2 linked regions of the Homo sapiens genome follow. The protein of the gene in region 2 purifies or fractionates together with the protein of the main gene of each other region. This does not show direct contact. Each region holds a gene or a part of one and is shown on either strand. Other genes may lie near its edges.

Region 1 (3,783 bases), on a different chromosome or scaffold from region 2:
GGCCTCCCAAAGTGTTGGGATGACAGGTGTGAGTTACCGCGCCAGGCCAGTTTCTTTTAAAACAATGAACATCTATAAAAATAATTTAGCTTCACTGGGCGCCATAGCTCATGCCTATCATCCCAGCACTTTGGGAGGCCGAGGTGGGCGGATCATGCGGTCAGGAGATCAAGACCATACTGGCTAACACGGTGAAACCTCATCTCTAATAAAAATACAAAAAAATTAGCCGGGAGGGGTGGCGGGCGCCTGTAGTCCCAGCTACTCAGGAGGCTGAGGCAGGAGAATGGCATAAACCCGGGAGGCGGAGCTTGCAGCGAGCCAAGATCACGCCACTGCACTCCAGCCTGGGTGACAGAGCGAGACTCCATCTCAAAAAAAAAAAAAAATTTAGCTTCTACCCCAATATGATCTCAATTGTGTACTTTTATAGACAGTCACCTGTGTGTCTATGTCTGTGTTAAAAAAGGTCTGGGCCAGGTGCGGTGGCTCACATCTGTAATCCCAACACTTTGGGAGGCTGAGGCAGGTGGATCACTTGAGGTCTGGTGTTCGAGACCAGCCTAGTCAACACGGCGAAACCCCGTCTCTACTAAAAATATAAAAATTAGCCAGGCGTTGCACGCCTGTAGTCCAAGCTACTCAGGAGACTCAGGCAAGACAATCGCTTGAACCCACGTGGTGGAGGTTGCAGTGAACTGAGATTGTGCCACTGCACTCCAGCATGGGCAAGAGAGCAAGACTCTATTTCAAAAAAAAAAAAAAAGTCTGAAAAGAAATGTAGTAAAATAATGGGAATGTTATTTTTCTCAGGATAGTGGGATTATTGGTCATTTTCTGTTTTATACAACCCAAGCTTCATTTGCCTTTCAGCAATTCAGTCAGCATGTAGACCCAGAATACATACACTCACCTGCTCACACACATACATAATATGCCACTTACACACAAATATCCCACTCCCACATACACACATCCCTGATCCTGCAGACACATGCTCCCACACATCTCACCGCACACACATATTACACACACACACACCAGCTCACATATGTAACTGCTCACACACACACATGCTCACTCTCATTCACACACACTTTCACTCAAATTCAAGGCTAAGAGACTGGAAATGATACAGGGCAAATAAAAGGCGATGCCAGGCTGGGCGCTACGGCTCATGCCTGCAATCCCAGAACTTTGAGAGGCTGAGGCCCGAGGACGGTCGCTTGAGCCTGGGAGTTCAATAATATGCCTGGGCAGTATCACTATACTATACTTCATCTCTACAAAAATAATTTTTAAAAATGTTTGTATTTTTAGTAGAGACGGGGTTTCACCGTCTCCTGACCTCATGATCTGCCCGCCTCAGCCTCCCAAAATGCTGGGATTACAGGCGTGAGCCACTGCACCCAGCCAATTTTTTTAAATTAGCGGAGCATGGTCATGCCTGCCTATAGTCCCAGCTACTCAGGAGGCTAAGATGAGAGGACTGCTTGAGCCCAGGAGGTGGAGGTTGCAGTGAGCTGAGATCTTGCCACTGCACTTCAGACTGGGTGACAGAGTGAGATCCTGTCTCAAAACAAACGAACAAAAAGGTGCAGTCAAATGTCCCTAGGAACTTCCTACTGCCACCATTAGCGGTGCAGGAATAAAAAAACGTAGGGAGATCTGAGCATCGACACTTCCTTCGGCAGCCTATTTCTGCAAGTACTGAAGACAGACAATGCCTACCAAGGTTACTGAAGGACATTCTCTGAAAAGAATCAGTGGCTATTAAAACGCAACTGCTTAAGTGACTGTAAAAATAACATGTAAATTACAGTTATAATCTTTAAAAACAAAACAAAATTAAAGTAATCCTTTCTCACAACACTCTTAGAATTTATTTTACAATCTCTGCTTCATGATAGGTGGCAGTAAATACAAAAGCATCAGTCCTCTCAGTATGAAGGGGTCATGTCAATCTCCAGAGATGGTTGAAGCCTTAAAAATCACCTATTCCAACTTCATACCTAATTCCTGGACACATCTGACTATAAATTCCTGTTTCAAAAAAATATAACCAGAAAGCTCCACTTGCTCCTTTCATGTGCTGATTTCTGCTAACACAACACTGTGTTATATTACACTACACCTGATCTATCACCAGATGACGTAATTAGATCCAAACACACCATGACATTGCTAAAGAAACAGGGACACAAAAGCCATCTGTATTATAAACAGGAGCTGCTTCTATTAAAAATTCAGATAATCCATTTAAATAATTTAAAATGCTACCTTCATAAACAGATTACATAGAAGATACTCAATATGCTACCTCTGAAAATTTGATAAAAATTAAGATACTTGGCCGGGCACAGTGGCTCATGCCTGTAATCCCAGCACTTTGGGAGGCCGAGGCGGGTGGATCACCTGAGGTCAAGAGTTCAAGACCAGCCTGGCCAACATGGCAAAACCGTCTCTACTAAAAATACAAAAAATAGCCAGGTGTGGTGACGGGCACCGGTAATCCCAGCTACTCGGGAGGCTGAAGCAGGAGAATCGCTTGAACCCGGGAGGCAGAGGTTGCAGTGAGCCGAGATCACACCATTGCACTCCAGCCTGGGCGACAGAGCAGGCGAGACTCCATCTCAAAAAAAAAAAAAAATTAAGATAATCTAGTTGTTATCATCAAGGACAGTAATGTGACTGGACTAAGAGTCTCTCATGTGCTCAATATTTTGAAATCTCAAGGTAGAAAGTACAAAAACTTATGACCTTTATTGCTGTTATCCAGTTAATCTGAACTGTTCCCTAGCGTTTTTAAAAAAATCATTAATGTCTTTAAAAGAATCGGTATCTTTTGGAAATATATACTGAAGCATTTATGGAAGAAATGATATAATGTCAGGAACCCACTTCAAAAATCATCTGGGGGTAGTGAGTGGTGAGTTTACAGATGAACCAAGACTGCTAAAACTGAGCAATGGCTACAGGGTTACATAACATGAAAATCAACCTTTCTTTACCCTGTAAATTATCTGTTGCCAAACAGTAACTTAGCTTTAAGAAATCAAGAGCTCTCCTCCATCCCAGGAAGCCGGCCCAAGTCCAGGCACTCAGATCACACCCAACATTGCTTCTTCCTAAGCCGTCTAGAAGAACAGACAAGGAGTAATACCACAGGAGATCCCTTCCACTTCCCCATCCTCACCAAATCCCAAGTCATCCAGCCCTTGCCCCCAACCTTCGAATTTCATCAAGAGCTCTTGGAATTCAGAGTGAAGAATTTTGTCTCATTTCTACTTTGTGATGACAAGAAAGCTCAGCCCCAAATAGCAACACAAAGTTTTTCCCATTGTGATCATTAAGGGAGGTTATGACAAAAGATGTTTCTCAAATAAAAAGAATTGTATGAAAGTCAGTAAGATATTATCACAATAGGGATATTGTGAGCCACCACATCTAAGAAGAGGCATCTAAGGTCTAAGGGCCAAAAGACCTAGTTCTACTCCTGTGAGACCTTGGGAGAGCTATCTGACCTTTCTGGGTTTCCAGTTTCTTACCTGTAAAGTGGGGATGAATCCTGCTTACCTACTATCTCAGAGAACTGTGGTATGATCCAGTGGAAACATCCTGAGCCTCACAGAAGTTCTCTATCAAGAGTTGGGTTATGGTAACAAGGAGCAAATGTGGTACTCTCCTAACTTCTTTGCTGTACTGAAGCAAGAGTATGTTTGGGAGAAGAGACAGCGCAGTAGCCAACAGCAACCAAGGGAGCTCAAGGTGCTCTCCAGCCCA
Region 2 (4,066 bases):
GGAGACAGAGTCTTGCCCTGTTTCCCAGGCTGGAATGCAGTGGTGTGATCATAGTTCACTGCAGCCTTGACCTCCTGGGCTCAAGCAGTCCTCCTACCTCAGTCTCCTGAGTAGCTGGGACCACAGGTGCTTACCACCATGTCTAGCTTATTTGTTTGTATGTATGTATGTATTTATGTACATATGATGGAGTCTCACTCTGTCACCCAGGCTGGAGTACGGTGTCATGATCTTGGCTCACTGCAACCTCTGCCTCCTGGGTTTAAGTGATTCTCATGCCTCAGCCTTCTGAGTAGCTGGGACCACAGGTGTGCACCACCATGCCTAGCTAATTTGTATGTATGTATGTATTTATGTACATATGATGGAGTCTCACTCTGTCACCCAGGCTGGAGTGCGGTGGCATGATCTTGGCTTACTACAATAGCCCCCTCCCGGGTTTAAGCAATTCTCATGCCTCAGCCTTCTGAGTAGCTGGGACCACAGGTGTGCATCACCATGCCTAGCTAATTTGTATGTTTGTATGTATGTATGTATTTACGCTCATATGACGGAGTCTCACTCTGTCACCCAGGTTGGAGTCTCACTCTTGTCAACATGATCTTGGCTCACTGCAACCTCCGTTTCCTGGGTTTAAGCTATTCTCATGTCTCAGCCTCCTGAGTAGCTGGGATCACAGGTGTGCGCCACCACGCCCAGCTAATTTTTTTGTATTTTTAGTAGAGACAGGGTTTCACTGTGTTGGCCAGGCTGGTCTTGAACTCCTGGCCTAAAGTGATCCACCCGCCTCAGCCTCCCAAAGTGTTGGGATTACAGACATGAGCCATTGTGCCCAGACATATTCTTTTTTAGAGACAGGCTCTTGCTCTGTTGCCCAGGCTGATCTTGAACACCTGGACCCAAGTGGTCCTCCCGCTTCAGCTTCCTAAAGTGCTGGGATTACAGGGGTGACACCGCTCTCGGCCAAAAAATTAACTTTTTGTTAATCAGCCATCTTTTGCTTTTCTTCTCTTTTACCTAATATCCCTTGAAGTTTTAAACATTGTATGTTCTATATTTGATTCACTCTGTAGTTATAATTTTGTAGTTGATCTCTTCTTTACTATTTATATAAGCTCATACCTTTCCTAGTTACTCACTGCAGTAATTAACTTGCCTTATCCCTGAGAGGTCTGAAAAAAAAAACAATGACTAGCTTAAAGTTTATTGAACGCCTTGGAAAAGTGTGGTATAAAACAATAATATTTATTTCATTCTTGAGTTTGAATAATCCCTTACCTATTTCCTCTGTCTCCACCCTGCATGTTAGACTAGTGTTCCCTTTCTGTCTTCATCTTTTGTACATATGTTCATTGTGTCATTTATTATATATAATTTTAAATGTTTACACGTTTCTCCCCACTGGAATAAAAGCTCACTGATGGAAGAACCTACATCTTTTTATCCTTGAATTTCTAGCTAGACTATTGCCTTGCTTATGCCTGTAACAGGCCTTTAATTTATTGATTGGAAGCTTTAGTTTGGAGCATGTAGTGTGCAACAAAGTATTTCAATCTTTTTTTTTTTTAAAAACAAGTAATTCTTAATTCTTTTAGAAGCTGGATAAGAAATCATCTCCATCCACAGGAAGCCTAGATTCTGGAAATGAGTCCAAAGAGAAATTATTGAAAGGAGAAAGTGCGCTTCAGCGGGTCCAGTGTATCCCTGGCAATGCCAGCTGTTGTGACTGTGGCCTGGCAGATCCACGGTGGGCCAGCATCAACCTGGGCATCACCTTGTGTATCGAGTGCTCCGGAATTCACCGGTGGGTAGGCCTGCCCAGGATGAGAATTTCTTCTTTTGGATAAACACAGATAGAAATGGTTGTTTCACTTGTTAGTTGCCCTTTTCCACTTCCCTAATTTAATCACCAGTTTGTATCTTTGTACCTTTTAAGAAGTAGTTAAAATCCTGGTTTGTAAAAGCTGTTGAGGACTTTGGTTCATCATTCATTATTAAACAGAAGATCTGTGCCTATATGTGTATGCCGAGGGCTTTATTAGAGCCTGTGTCACGTTAAAACAGAACTTGCGCAAATACGCAAACAGAGACTTGATAGTAATGCAGTCTTCTTTTTTCCACTTAGGAGCCTTGGGGTTCATTTTTCAAAAGTACGATCTTTAACTTTAGACACCTGGGAGCCAGAACTTTTAAAGGTAAAAAAAATTTTTGCTTTAAAATATTTCATATTTTCACATGAAAGTGAAGATTTTAGAATCTTGGTTTACAAATGTGTGAGTTCTTCATGCTACCAATGTATGCTAGCTAAATTGTATTGAAACACATCTGAGGCTATTTTGGCAAATCTGGTGTTTTCATTGTAAGTTTTAAAAATGGCTACATTTGGCTGGGTGCGGTGGCTCACGCCTGTAATCCCAGCACTTTAGGAAGCCGAGGCGGGCGGATCATGAGGTCAGGAGATCGAGACCATCCTGGCTAACACGGTGAAACCCCGTCTCTACTAAAAAATACAAAAAATTAGCCAGGCGTGGTGGCGGGTGCCTGTAGTCCTAGCTACTCAGGAGGCTGAGGCAGGAGAATGGCGTGAACCCGGGAGGCAGAGCTTGCAGTGAGCCGAGATCGCGCCACTGCACTCCAGCCTGGGTAACAGAGAGACTCCGTCTCAAAAAAGAAAAAGAAAAAAAGAAAAAAAAAAGGCTATATTTATATATAGCACTCTTAACTCCAGGTTAGTTCACTGTTCTTGTTTTCCTTGAGACAAGGTCTTCGCTCCCTTGTGCAGGCTGTGTAGTGGCACCATCACAGCTTACTGCAGCCGGGACTTCCTTGGCTCAAAGAATCCTCGTGCTGCAGACCCCCCAAGCAATTGACACCACAGATGCATGCCACCATGCCTGGCTAATTTTTGTATTTTTCGTAGAGACATGGTTTCACCATGTTGCCCAGACTGGCCTTGTACTCCTGGGCTCAAGCAGTCCATCTACCTCGGCCTCCCAAAGTGCTGGGACTACAGGTGTGAGCCACTACCCTTGGCCCAGTTCAGATTCTATGCCTTAATTTTAATCTTTTCTGATTAGATTCTTTTTAAATATATAAGAGGTCTATTGCTATACTAAACTTCATAATGGATTAGAAAAGCTTTTGACACCATTGGGTTGTTTCAGCATACGATGATTTGCAAATTTATATTTGTCAGGTTAGGAGTCATCATACCAAGTCTTCCTTTTTTCCCTGTGTCTAAGAATTTATATCTATGAAAATGTCATAAATAATTTTAGACCACTACCGGTTTCTGATAAGATTTACAAAATTCGAAATAGTAGTATAATCCTTTTAATTCCTGCCATCTAGTTTACCATATTGTAGAAAATAGATGAGTTTAAGGGTTGGAGTATATGCTCATTTGTTTCTGTCTGAAATCCTGTGGCCGGGTGCGGTGGCTCATGCCTGTAATCCCAGCACTTTGGGAGGCCAAGGTGGGCAGATCACTTGAGGTCAGGAGTTTGAAACCAGCCTCGCCAACATGGTGAAACTGTCTCTATTAAAAATACAAAAATTAGCCAGGCGTGGTGGCACACACCTGTAGTCCCAGCTACTCGAGAGGCTGAGGCAGGAGAATTGCTTGAATCCAGGAGGCAGAGGTTGCAGTGAGCCGAGATCGCACCACTGCACTCCGGCCTGGGCAACAGAGGAAGACTGTGTCTCAAAAAAAAAAAAAAAAAAAAGAAAAAAAAAGAAAAAAGAAAGACGGAAAGTAGATACTAATTCCCATTCTTTTTAAAATAGAATGTTTTTAATTTTTTTTGAAATTCACTCATTTTTATAAGAATATTTTTCAAATTTTAATCGTAGTATATTGTGAATTTATTTAGTGTAGAGTAGAAAATGTGTGCCTAACTCTTGATATTTTTTCCAAATTCTCTCTTTTTTTTGAGAGGGAGTCTCGCTGTGTCGCCCAAGCTGGAGTGCAGTGGCGCGATCTTGACTCACTGCAAGCTCCACCTCCTGGGTTCACACCATTCTCCTCCCTCAGCCTCCTGAGTATCTGAGACTACAGGTGCCCACC

The links.
Region 1: the proteins of ACAP2 (region 2) and RAB11FIP3 purify together in Homo sapiens (affinity purification with western blotting, with the first as the bait; one study listed by BioGRID). This does not show direct contact.

What each region holds. Positions count from the first base shown.
Region 1 is NC_000016.10:428,366-432,148, reverse strand, and holds part of RAB11FIP3 (rab11 family-interacting protein 3), read right to left. Parts: intron 1-3,783. UniProt on the Homo sapiens protein: Downstream effector molecule for Rab11 GTPase which is involved in endocytic trafficking, cytokinesis and intracellular ciliogenesis by participating in membrane delivery. Recruited by Rab11 to endosomes where it links Rab11 to dynein motor complex.
Region 2 is NC_000003.12:195,299,704-195,303,769, reverse strand, and holds part of ACAP2 (arf-GAP with coiled-coil, ANK repeat and PH domain-containing protein 2), read left to right. Parts: intron 1-1,595; coding exon 1,596-1,804; intron 1,805-2,125; coding exon 2,126-2,195; intron 2,196-4,066. UniProt on the Homo sapiens protein: GTPase-activating protein (GAP) for ADP ribosylation factor 6 (ARF6). Doesn't show GAP activity for RAB35.